3 linked regions of the Homo sapiens genome follow. The protein of the gene in region 2 purifies or fractionates together with the protein of the main gene of each other region. This does not show direct contact. Each region holds a gene or a part of one and is shown on either strand. Other genes may lie near its edges.

Region 1 (3,652 bases), on a different chromosome or scaffold from region 2:
CTCCTGACATGAGGTGATCTGCCCGCCTCAGCCTCCCAAAGTGCTGAGATTACAGGTGTGAGCCACCGCGACCCACCCACAACCTTCTTTTGATCATTTTTCTTTTGAGTTGTTTTGGGGATCTACCTATTCCAGGTACTGCACTTTGATGGTTATATTTGTTGCAAATATATTATTCCTGCTTGTGTGTTGCCTTACATGAAAAATTGTAAAGTCACAGGCCTGCTTATAGCTATTAGAGTCTGAGCTCCTTGAAAGAGCAAGAGATGGATATCCTGATTTGCTCATTTTCTGAGAAGTGCCTTGACTGTCTTACTACTTAGAAAATGCTTGTTAACATTGATGAGAAGTCAATAAAATAAAAACTGTTGGCTGGGCGCTGTGGCTCACGCCTGTAATCCCAGCAGTTTGGGAGGCCGAGACAGGCGGATCACGAGGTCAGGAAATCGAGACCATCCTGGCTAACACGGTGAAACCCCGTCTCTACTAAAAATACAATTAGCCGGGCGTGGCGGCGAGCGCCTGTAATCCCAGCTACTCTGGAGGCTGAGGCAGGAGAATGGCGTGAACCTGGGAGGCGGAGCTTGCAGTGAGCCGAGATCGCGCCACTGCACTCCAGCCTGGGCGACAGAGCGAAACTCTGTCTCAAAAAAACAAACAAACAAAAACTGTCAGAGCGGCGATCAGTAAACATTGATAAGACTAATGGCAAGGTAAGTTACAAAGAAAATGCCTGTTAGAGCTGAATATGCTCACTTCCCTCCCAATCATGTTAAATCCATGGGTTAAAGAGGTAGGAATTTGTTGAGGCAGCCTCAGAGCTTCCTTTTCCTTTTTCCAAGCTATCCCAAGCAAGTCAATCACTTCCAGCGCATTGAAATCATCACCAGACACCTATTCCACTGAGTCTTAGTTTTAAGAGTCCAAAACCCTAGGACCAAGTTTGGAAATCCCCTGGTTTGGCATATTGGGCCCTGAAAGTTACACTTCGCTGAATTTAGCCCAAGAGGCACTTGCCTTGCTAGATGTGGTCAATAATAAAAGCAGGAAGAGAGCTTAAGGTTTAAATGTGCCTTTCTAGTTATTTTAGTTATTTCTAGTTATTCAGATGGTGCAAAAAAGTTGCAGATGCCGGCTGGGCGCGGTGGCTCACGCCTGTAATCCCAGCACTTTGGGAGGCCAAGGCAGGTGGGTCATGAGGTTAGGACATCGAGACCATCCTGGCTAACATGGTGTCTCTACTAAAACAAAAAATACAAAAAATTAGCCGGGCGTGGTGGCACGCGCCTGTAATCCCAGCTATTCGGAGGCTGAGGAAGGAGAATCGCTTGAACCCGGGAGGCAGAAGTTGCTGTAAGCCGAGATGGCGCCACTGCACTCCAGCCTGGGTGACAGAGCAAGACTCCATCTCCCCCGCCCCCACCCCCACCCTGCCAAAAAAGTTGCAGATGCCTTCTCTCCCAGCTCCACCCACTGTTCATGGTAGGGTATGAAGTAGCAGCGCACATTATCAGGAGCAACTGTGGGGGTAAGCGTCCTTTCTCTGGCAATTCGCTCTATGCCCTTGTACGCTGTTGTTTGTATTTCTCACTGTTTGTAAGTCTCACTGTCGCCCAGGCTGGAGTACAGTGGTGTGATCACGGCTCACTGCAACCTCCACCTCCCTGGCTCAAATGATCTTCCCACCTCAGCTTCCTAAGTAGCTGGGACTACAGGCACACACCACTACGCTCAGCTAATTTTTTTTTTTTTTTTTTTTTTGGTAGAAACGGGGTTTCTCCATGTTAGCCAGGCTGGTCTCAAACTCCTGGGCTCAAGCAAGCTGCCTGCCTCGGCTTCCCAAAGTGCTGGGATTACAGGTGTGAGCCACCACGCCCAGCCACTCTCTGTGTTTTTAAATTATTCCAGCTTCACCACTTAATGACTACACACTTGGGTAACTTGCTTCTCTCCTGTGCCTCAGTTTTCTCATCTGTAACATGGGGCTACTCATGGTATTGACCTCATAGGGTGTGTCTCAGTCTATTTTGTGCTGCCATACATAATACTTGGGACTAGGTAGTTAATAAAAAAGAGAAATTGATTTCTCACAGTTCTGGAAGCTGGGAAGTCGAAGATCAAGGTGCTGGCAGGTTTGGCTGTCTGGTGAGAGCTGCATTTGGAGGAATGCTGCGTCCTTACATAGACGGTGGGAGGTAGAAGGTGGAAGGGCAGGTGAGCCCCGTGCTGGGCGAAGCCTCTTTTATGAGGGCCTTAATCCCACTCATGAGGAAGGAGACCCCCTCGCCTAATCACCTATCACAGGCCCCATCTGTTAATCCTCTCACATTGGCAGCACCTGAATTTTGGAGGGGGACACGTTTAAAACATAGCAGGTTGTCCTGACAAAGGAAGAAAGTGCAGGCCGGGCGTGGTTGCTCACACCTATAATCCCAACATTGTAGGAGGCTGAGGCAGGCAAAATTGCCCCAGCCTGGGCAACACGGCTCCAAATTTGACCAGCCTGGGCAACATGGCAAATCCCTGTCTCTACAAAAAAAAAAAAAAAATTAGGTGTGGTGGTGCACACCTGTAGTATCAGCTACTCAGGAGGCTGAGGTGGGAGGATAGCTTGAGCCTGAGAGGTCAAGGCTGCAGTGACCTGAGATCATGCCACTGCATTCCAGCCTGGGCAACAGATCGAGACCCTGTCTCAGAAAGAGAAAAAGAAAAAAAAGGAATGCAAAGCACTTAGGGCAGTGCCTAGCACTAAGGATCCACTAAATACTGTTCTTGCAAATTGAAGCATGCTGCCTCTGACAACCTTGTTAATATAAAAGAGGCCCATTTCCCTTCTACCTGTACCTCTTTGCCATTTCTTATAAAGGAAGCTGAGCTGTTAATAGTTCAATGTGATTGGCCTGGCACGGTGGCTCACACCTGTAATCCTAGCTACTGGGGATGCTGAGGCAGGAGAATCGCTTGAACCTGAGAGGCGGAGGTTGCAGTGAGCCAAGTTCATGCCACTGCACTCCAGCCTGGGCAACAGAGTGAGACTGTCAAAAAAAAAAAAAAGTTTAATGTGATCACTGCACATTTTTCCCCCTCATACCAAGGTGCTGCAAGTCTACATACAAATATATGTCATTTCTTTTTTTCTTTTTTTTTTGTATTTTCTTTTTTCTTCCTTCCCTTCCCTCTCTCCCTTCCTCTCACTTCTTTCATTTTAAATAAAAATGGGTTCATATTCACTTGCTTTTTTATCAGTTAATAATATAGCATGGATATCTTTTTGAGTCACTACATATAGTTAATTCATTTTAATTTTTTTAATTTTTAAAATTTGTTTATTTGAGACAGGGTCTCCCTCTGTCACCCAGGCTGGAGTGCAGTGCGGCGATCACGGATCACTGCAGCCTCAACCTCCTGGGTTCAAGTGATCCTTCCATCTCTCAGCCTCCTGAGTAGTTGGGACTACAGGCATACACCACCATGCCCAGCTAATTTTTGTACGTTTTGTAGAGAAGGGATTTCGCTTTTGTCATGTTGCCCAGGCTGGTCTTGAACTCCTGGGCTCAAGCAATGTTCCCGCCTTGGCCTCCCAAAGTGCTGGAATTAGAAGCGTGAGCAACCGTACCTGGTCAACAGTCTCTAAAAATTTTTTTTTATGACA
Region 2 (4,127 bases):
GGATGTCGGATAGATGGAGGGATTGATAGATGTTGGATGGATGGGTGGTGGATGGATAGATGAGTGAATGCATGGATAGACAAAGAGATGATGGATGGATGAATTAAGGGATGACAGATGGATGGATGGATGAGTAACTGGATGGACAAGTGGATAAATGGATAGATGGTTGAATACCTGAATGGATTGAAGGAGGATGCATGGATGTAAGATAAGGCTAATCATCCTCCACTCTCTTTCTTTGCAAAACCATCCACCCATTTACTCAATAAACATTTATTCAGTTCAAACTTGGCACAAAGCACCATGTGAGGCCCAAGAGATACGTGGGTTAATAAAACAGAGCTCCTGCCCTCCTGAAAACTGCAAAGAAAGGGGCGTGGCTTCCTGAGTTCAAATCCCAACTCTGCCAGCGACTAGTTGTACATCAGTGATGTTTCCCTACTTTCTCTCAATTAAATAGGGATAATGTCAGTACCTATCACATTGGGAGGTCTTGCGGGGATTAAATGAGTTACCAAATGCCAAGTGTTTGGGACAGGGCCTGGCACCCAGCAAAGTCTCTTGTGAGTGCTGGCTGCTATTATCCTAATGGAGAAGATGGCATGAAAACCAGGAAATAGGATGCCCTTTGGGAAGCAATGCAACAGGAACTTACACAAAGAAAGGAAAGGAGGAAGCAATTAGTGGTGTCTCAAAGGAGTATGTCAAGAAAAACTTTTCAGAGGGAAACCTTTGAGCAGGGTCATGAAAACAGGAGTTCTCTAAGAGATTGTGGACTTGCCTGGGACCACCTGGCTATAAGCACAAAACCATCCGGTTCCTTTCTGTCACTTCTGGCTGGGTGAGGGGTCTCTGGCAAAGGGGCAGAAGGTGCGTGAGAGGTTGCGAATGGCCAGGACTGTCCTGGGGCCAGCCGGGGCACCTGGTGGCCAAGCTTAGAAACATGACAGGTCCTCTTGGGAGGGCTGACCGCAGGGAGCGTTGGGTTTCAGGCTGCTGGCGTCGGCTTCTGTGGTGCCCTTTCTGTCGGCTATGAGAGTCCAGACAGTGCCCAACCTCCTCCCCTTCTTTCCACACGCACAACCACCCCACCCCCTGTGGCCTGAGCTGTCCTGCCTCGCCACAATGGCACCTGCCCTAAAATAGCTTCCCATGTGAGGGCTAGAGAAAGGAAAAGATTAGACCCTCCCTGGATGAGAGAGAGAAAGTGAAGGAGGGCAGGGGAGGGGGACAGCGAGCCATTGAGCGATCTTTGTCAAGCATCCCAGAAGGTATAAAAACGCCCTTGGGACCAGGCAGCCTCAAACCCCAGCTGTTGGGGCCAGGACACCCAGTGAGCCCATACTTGCTCTTTTTGTCTTCTTCAGACTGCGCCATGGGGCTCAGCGACGGGGAATGGCAGTTGGTGCTGAACGTCTGGGGGAAGGTGGAGGCTGACATCCCAGGCCATGGGCAGGAAGTCCTCATCAGGTAAAAGGAAGAGATTCCATTGCCCCTGCCACCCACACCCTAAGATCAAGGGTGTTCAGCTGCAAGGTGGAAAGTTTGCACGTGGGGTAGGTCAGTTGGCTGCATTAGTTAAGGGTGTTAGAACGGTCACTTGCTTTTTCTTTGCTTTTAAGTGTCAGGGATTGGACTCAGGAGAGGGAAAGGAGCCATTTCAGGCTGATGTCAGCAGCTGGAGGAAGCATGAGAATCAAACCTAGGATGCTCAGAGTCCACCAGGAAGAATTTTAGAATTATAGACAGTCAGAGTTAACAAGGGTCCTGAGAGATTTTGTACAGCCACCTCTCTTACAGGATGAGGACAAAAAGGGACTGAGAAGGGGAGGACATTTCCAGAGTCACAGCTCATTAAATGCTCTTAAAGTGTCAAGGTTAAGACATGCTCTTCAAGGGGAGACAGATCTGGTTCTAGACTTGGCTCTGCCACTGAGCCACTGGGTGACCTTTGGGAAAGTACTCAACCTCTCGGAGCCTCAATTTCCTCTCCTGTACAGTGAGGGGATATCCTAATATCTATATCCTAGAGGAGATGTGAGAATTAAATAAAATAATGCATGCAAGAGGCCTGGCATGGTTCCTGGCATATACTGAGTCCTAGAAATGTTAGTAGCTATTACTGATGAAGCCCAGGCTAGGGACCTTTCAAAGCATTGCAATTAGAGAACAGAAGATAGAGGCTCATTAGTGACCTTCGATGTTGAGTATGTCTCTAGTTTGAGAGGTCTGAATGATGTGGTCTGCAAGTATATCCTGCCTTCTACCACAAGGGATTCCAGAATACACCAAAGAAAACAAAATTCTGAGGTTTGTAAATAGAGGGTGGCTGTGGTTTGTACATAGAAGCTCATCTCCTCGTTGCCTTCTATCCCAAAGGTGATACACTCTTCTCTTGGCCCCTTCCCTCACCATTCTGAGCTGGTTCCCTCAGAAGTCTAATAGGTTAAGAATCAACGTTTCTGCCAACGGGAGGAAGGAAGTGGGCGCCGGGGTTGCCACAAGTGAATGGATTGTCTTTGGCACTTTAATTTGCAGATTAATTTCTCCTTATTTGTGAGCCAGAGCCAATTTTCCTCTTCCACTCCGTCGTCCTTTGGGTCTCCCTTGGGCTTTACCCATTTCCAGCTTCCGTCTACCTCGGGAGCATGGCTGGTCCTGGAAGCTCCGTTATCTAAAATTTGAGCCGTTGGTGATCCGTGCTAGAAACACTTGAGGAAGAAGAGTTGAGTTTTCTGTTGACTGTAATGGCATCGTAGTGTGTTTATGTCTTTCTTCTCCTGTCCCTGTCATCTGGCTGCAACAGGCCCTGTTGGATTGCACAAAGTGCTCCCCCGACCAACACACACACACAAATTGACATCAACTCCTGGGCCACAGATATGCCATGTGACCTTGGACAAGTCTCTCCACCTCTGGGCCTTATTTCTCTGCTGGTTGAGCGAAGGGATTGTCTTCCATGGTCTCCGAGATCCCGTCCCACGCTCATGCCCTAGAATTCTCTGAGTCCTTGATGCACTTTTGCCTTTGGCGAGGAGGCAGGACAGTCAGGCGTGGAGGTAGGAGACCAGAGTTTGCAGAGCAGAGGTCTTTCCAAGGTGATTTGGGAGCTGCCAGACCTAAGGCAGTGACTTGTACGTCTTGAAAGAGACTCAGGGTGTTGCATCATCAGGGAGGATCACGGAGGTTTGCCGGGGGCCGGGAGCCAGGGATAAGACATAATGCCTAGGGTTGCTGGTCCCTGAAAGGTCCCAGAGGCCTGGTGCCCTGTCACGTCTTAGGTTGTGGGACATGCAGAGACTGTGCCAGCTGGTTCTGCCCTCTCAGTATTTGGGGTACAGGGAGGATGGCCTCCCTGGGGGCAGGGTGGAGGAGGCTCATGCCCAGGACTGCAAATGCCACCCGTGAGAGTTGGCATCTTGACTTTGTTCTAGATACTGACTCTGGATTTTCTAACTGACCTTGAAAGGTTATGTCTCCAATCTTCTGATTGTAAAAGAGGGCAAATTCCATGAAGCCCAGTCTGTAAAACACTGAGGCCTTCACTGCACGTACACAAACATAAAATTCTAGAACACAGAAGCTGGAAGGTCACTTGGAGATTCTGGCTCCAGGAGTGGGGCTTCGGAAGGGAGGGGGCTGCTGAGTGGGCTCCACACCCCTGTTTTTCCTTTCTTTACTCAAACCTTTTTTGTTTTATTTACTTTGGCTGTTTTGGGGAGCGGGGGGAACAAAGGATTTCAAGGTCATAAAATGTTTGAAAATCACCAGTGGTGGTCACTACTTCTCATTACAGGGAGGAACTGGGCCTGAGAGTCTCCACCGGTTAATGGCAGCCACAGGCAGGACCAAAAATTCCTGGGTGATGGTGATGATAATGATAATGATAATGATAATGGTAGAGATGATGAGGAGGAGAAAGACAGCAACCATTTATTCAGCACATACTGATTGCTGGGCTCTGTTTAAGTGTTTCACTCACTGAAGCCTGACAACAATCTTATGAGGTAGATATGATTATGATCACCACATTTAACAGAGAGGTTAAGTAACTTACGCCAAGTCACACAGCAAGTAAGAAAGGAGCTGGAATTCAAATTCAGGCAGCTTGGATCCAGAATCCT
Region 3 (3,652 bases), on a different chromosome or scaffold from region 2:
TCGTTGTTAAGAGAGAATACTGTTATAATTTAGGCTTAACTTAGATCTAGGATGTATAGAACCTGACAAATGATATGAATAGATTTATCAGAATTTTGATAATATAAGCATATTATCAGAATTTTGAAGCAGAGAGAATCAAGTCTTTCTGGAACTACACTGGAGTAATTTACGTGGATGATCTAAATATCCATCATGACAGGAATGGTTGAGGGAATGATGGCCTATTAATAGAATTGAGTATTATGTAACCATTAAGTACTACATGCACACACACATAAAAAGCACTCAGTAGGCCGAGGCGGGTGGATCATGAGGTCAGGAGATCGAGACCATCCTGGCTAACAAGGTGAAACCCCGTCTCTACTACAAATACAAAAAATTAGCCGGGCGCGGTGGCGGGCGCCTGTAGTCCCAGCTACTCGGGAGGCTGAGGCAGGAGAATGGCGTGAACCCGGGAAGCGGAGCTTGCAGTGAGCCGAGATTGCGCCACTGCAGTCCGCAGTCCGGCCTGGGCGACAGAGCGAGACTCCGTCTCAAAAAAAAAAAAAAACAAAAAAAACAAAAGCACTCAGTAAGTATGTGTTCAATTAAAAATAATTATAAAATTTTGTAATTCTGTAGAAAGACTTTCAAATTAGTATTACATGAAAAAAATAAGATACATTGAACATGTAGAGTTAGTTTAACTGTAAAAATGAAATTTAAGAGAACATGTCAAAATTCTGTACAGTACAAAATATTGTAAAATTTTGTACAAGAAACTTTTGTACAAGAAACATTTTGTACAATGGGTGTATATTAATTTTGCAATAAGATTAAAAATAAAAATAAATGAAGGGATAGTTAGAATTCCCAAGATGAAGTCTAGCATCAAAATTTCCAGCCTGCCTTTTTCTGAACTTGTACACGTTTTCTCTATAGCCCAGCTGGGAGCTAAAACTTCAGAATGATAGCATTCTTCTACTTTCTTTGAACATATATGTATTTTAATTAAACATTTTATGTTTCTTCAACAACTAGTAGGACTTTAAAGGCTCTGGACTGTTGTTCTAACAGTTTTCCATAGAGGAAAATAAATATTTTGTTTATCCCACAAGTTTTGTATGAGAGGAGATATCCAAATAAATGTAATAGTCATAATTTCTGTATTCCCAAATCTGAAGAATAATTATAATAGTATACCAGTTAAATGGAAGAGGTGTTGAAATTTAGAATGGTAATGGACTTTATTGCATGTTTAAAGTTCTTTTCAGTTGATAGCACACTTTAAGTGGATTTTTTTAAGGATTTTACTTTCAGATTGATTATCTTAATGTTCCTAATATAGTCTTTTTATAGATTGTTTCTGTTTTATTTTATATAAAGAGTTCATAAAGCCAGGTTTATTATTTTTTAACATGTTTTATTCAGCTTGTTAATCTTAAGTGTATGTTGAAATGTTAACTCTTGACATTTTAAATACTTTGCCAGCAACCGTAAATACCCGTTATAACCATTACCTACAATGGATTTACTATTTTCGTATTTACTTATTGAACAGTAGATTTTATATCATTTTTTAGACTCTTAGGTGGAAAATTGAATTCAAATAACTAGTTCTTTGTGTTAAATTTTCTTCTGTTAGGAAAAAATACACAAAGTCCCTTTTCACAGTAGTGTCCTATGCTAAAGGTCATTGTATTGTCAAAGACGGCTAGTGAGGAGTTGCAGATTACCTCACAAAATCATAAATGGGAAAGGGACTTAGATTAAATCTTAAAATAATAATATTTCAATGAGTATATTTTTCTTCATTGTAACTTAAGAGAATTAAACATGAAGTTAAATGTCTGCAGGATGCATTTATGTGTATTCATAATGACATTTTATGTGCGGGTAAATGTTTTCTTTCTCTCTTTTTTTTTTTTTAAGTTGTTACCATCAAAAGTCTCTGAAACTACATAAAGTGATTACATTCCCTGGTCAACAAAAATGAAGTGTTTGTCACTTCATATGTAAAATTTTCTTGATAGTTATGCTTTTAAAATCTCTTTTTAATGTAAGTTTTTGCCTACTAATCTTTTATTTACATTTTATCTTTTAATGATCTTTATCTTAGCCTCAAAATTATCTATGAAATACTAATTTTATTTTTGCTTCATTTATAAATTTTGAAGCTTTTTTCAATCATTCGTACAGCTTAGATGGTCTAGAACTATGGTAGCCACTAGCTACATGTTGCTCTTTAGTTAAATAAAATATAGAATTGGTTCCTTGGTCACACTAACATATTTCAAATATTAATTAGTTACATTTGGCAGACACATAATTCAGGCTCTTGAATTTCTCAGAAAAAAATAATAAATTTGCTCCTGCAGCCTTGTTATCTATCGCGTGTGGATTTTCTTTAAATGGTGACCATATTTTAACTTTTTGTTTTTACCCATTTTACTTAATTTTGAATTATTTGCCACACAGCTGTGATTCTCAGACATCTGATTTATGGCATAAGAGCTTTTAAAAATTAGACATATGCAGTGAGATTTTGTTAGTGGGTCTGGGATTGGGTCTAAAATCTTTATTTTTAAGAGGTCAGATTAGGAATGATGGGCTTGGAGCACACTAATCATTCATTCCTAGATTTTGTAGGTTTTTTTAAGCTTTACTTTTATATCAAATTAAATCACCAAAAACCTACATTTTCTGATGATAAATTTGTCTCCTTGCAGAGATATTGTTACTGAGTTACAGTTACATTGTTCATTTGTTTAATAAGTATAAGCACTTTCTGTGTGCCAGGCACTGTTGTAAGCATAGAGGGATACATTGATGAATAAAACACAAAAATCCCAGCTCCCATCATTAAATTCTAGTGAAAGTTAAGTCTTTATGTCCCAGAATTTTATGAGAAGAATCAGCAACAGAAGTGGCAGTATGTAGAATGTCTGATTTTGAATTTTATGTTTAATAAAGATCCATTTAATAAATTCTATTAAGGAATTCAATGCTAAGAAAAATTTCTAGTATGACTTGTTATGATTCCTTCTGTTAAAGAATATTGCCTTGCTACAGAGAAACTGTTAAATGCCCAGTTGCACACGTAATTACTGCCCCCACCCTAACATCATGGTCTGTAAGTCTCTTTTTTTATTCTCTGTGTCTCACTCTTTGCTCAAATCCCATCTCTTCCTCTCTCACATTCTCTCCTATTTTAGAGATGTAGTTTTATTATTAACAGTGTGTTTGATTTTAAGCAACCTGAAATTCCTTTGTAAGTAAATGGGCTGTAAAGAACAGAGGGGAAATTGGAAGAGATGAAGGAAGTGAGTGTTTGGTAAGCTCTATTCTGTGAACTTTTAGGAAAGCTAGAATTGTGTTCTGAGAGATAGGGATTCTTAAACTGAAAGTAGATTTCTGTATTTACAGTAACTGTACATTTTAAAAGTTCTCGCAATTTTAGTTTTTATAACTGATTAAGTATTTGTATTTAAAAGGTTGGTGGAAAATCTAGAGATTAGTCCATCTATCTTGTTTTACTATAAATGAAATCCAGCATTTTAAATAATTTACACAAAGACATTCAGCTTGGGAGTATCACAGGCAGGACTAGAACTAGTTTCCTTAATGTTGTCTCTTTGATAAGCTTAAGAGATATTTGTAAATTTTTTAC

What was found.
Region 1: the proteins of MB (region 2) and NQO1 fractionate together in Homo sapiens (co-fractionation; one large-scale study listed by BioGRID). This does not show direct contact.
Region 3: the proteins of MB (region 2) and LYPLAL1 fractionate together in Homo sapiens (co-fractionation; one large-scale study listed by BioGRID). This does not show direct contact.

The regions. Positions count from the first base shown.
Region 1 is NC_000016.10:69,719,941-69,723,592, reverse strand, and holds part of NQO1 (NAD(P)H dehydrogenase [quinone] 1), read left to right. Parts: intron 1-3,652. UniProt on the Homo sapiens protein: Flavin-containing quinone reductase that catalyzes two-electron reduction of quinones to hydroquinones using either NADH or NADPH as electron donors.
Region 2 is NC_000022.11:35,614,509-35,618,635, reverse strand, and holds the start of MB (myoglobin), read left to right. Parts: upstream 1-1,306; 5' UTR 1,307-1,378; coding exon 1,379-1,473; intron 1,474-4,127. UniProt on the Homo sapiens protein: Monomeric heme protein which primary function is to store oxygen and facilitate its diffusion within muscle tissues.
Region 3 is NC_000001.11:219,204,826-219,208,477, forward strand, and holds part of LYPLAL1 (lysophospholipase-like protein 1), read left to right. Parts: intron 1-3,652.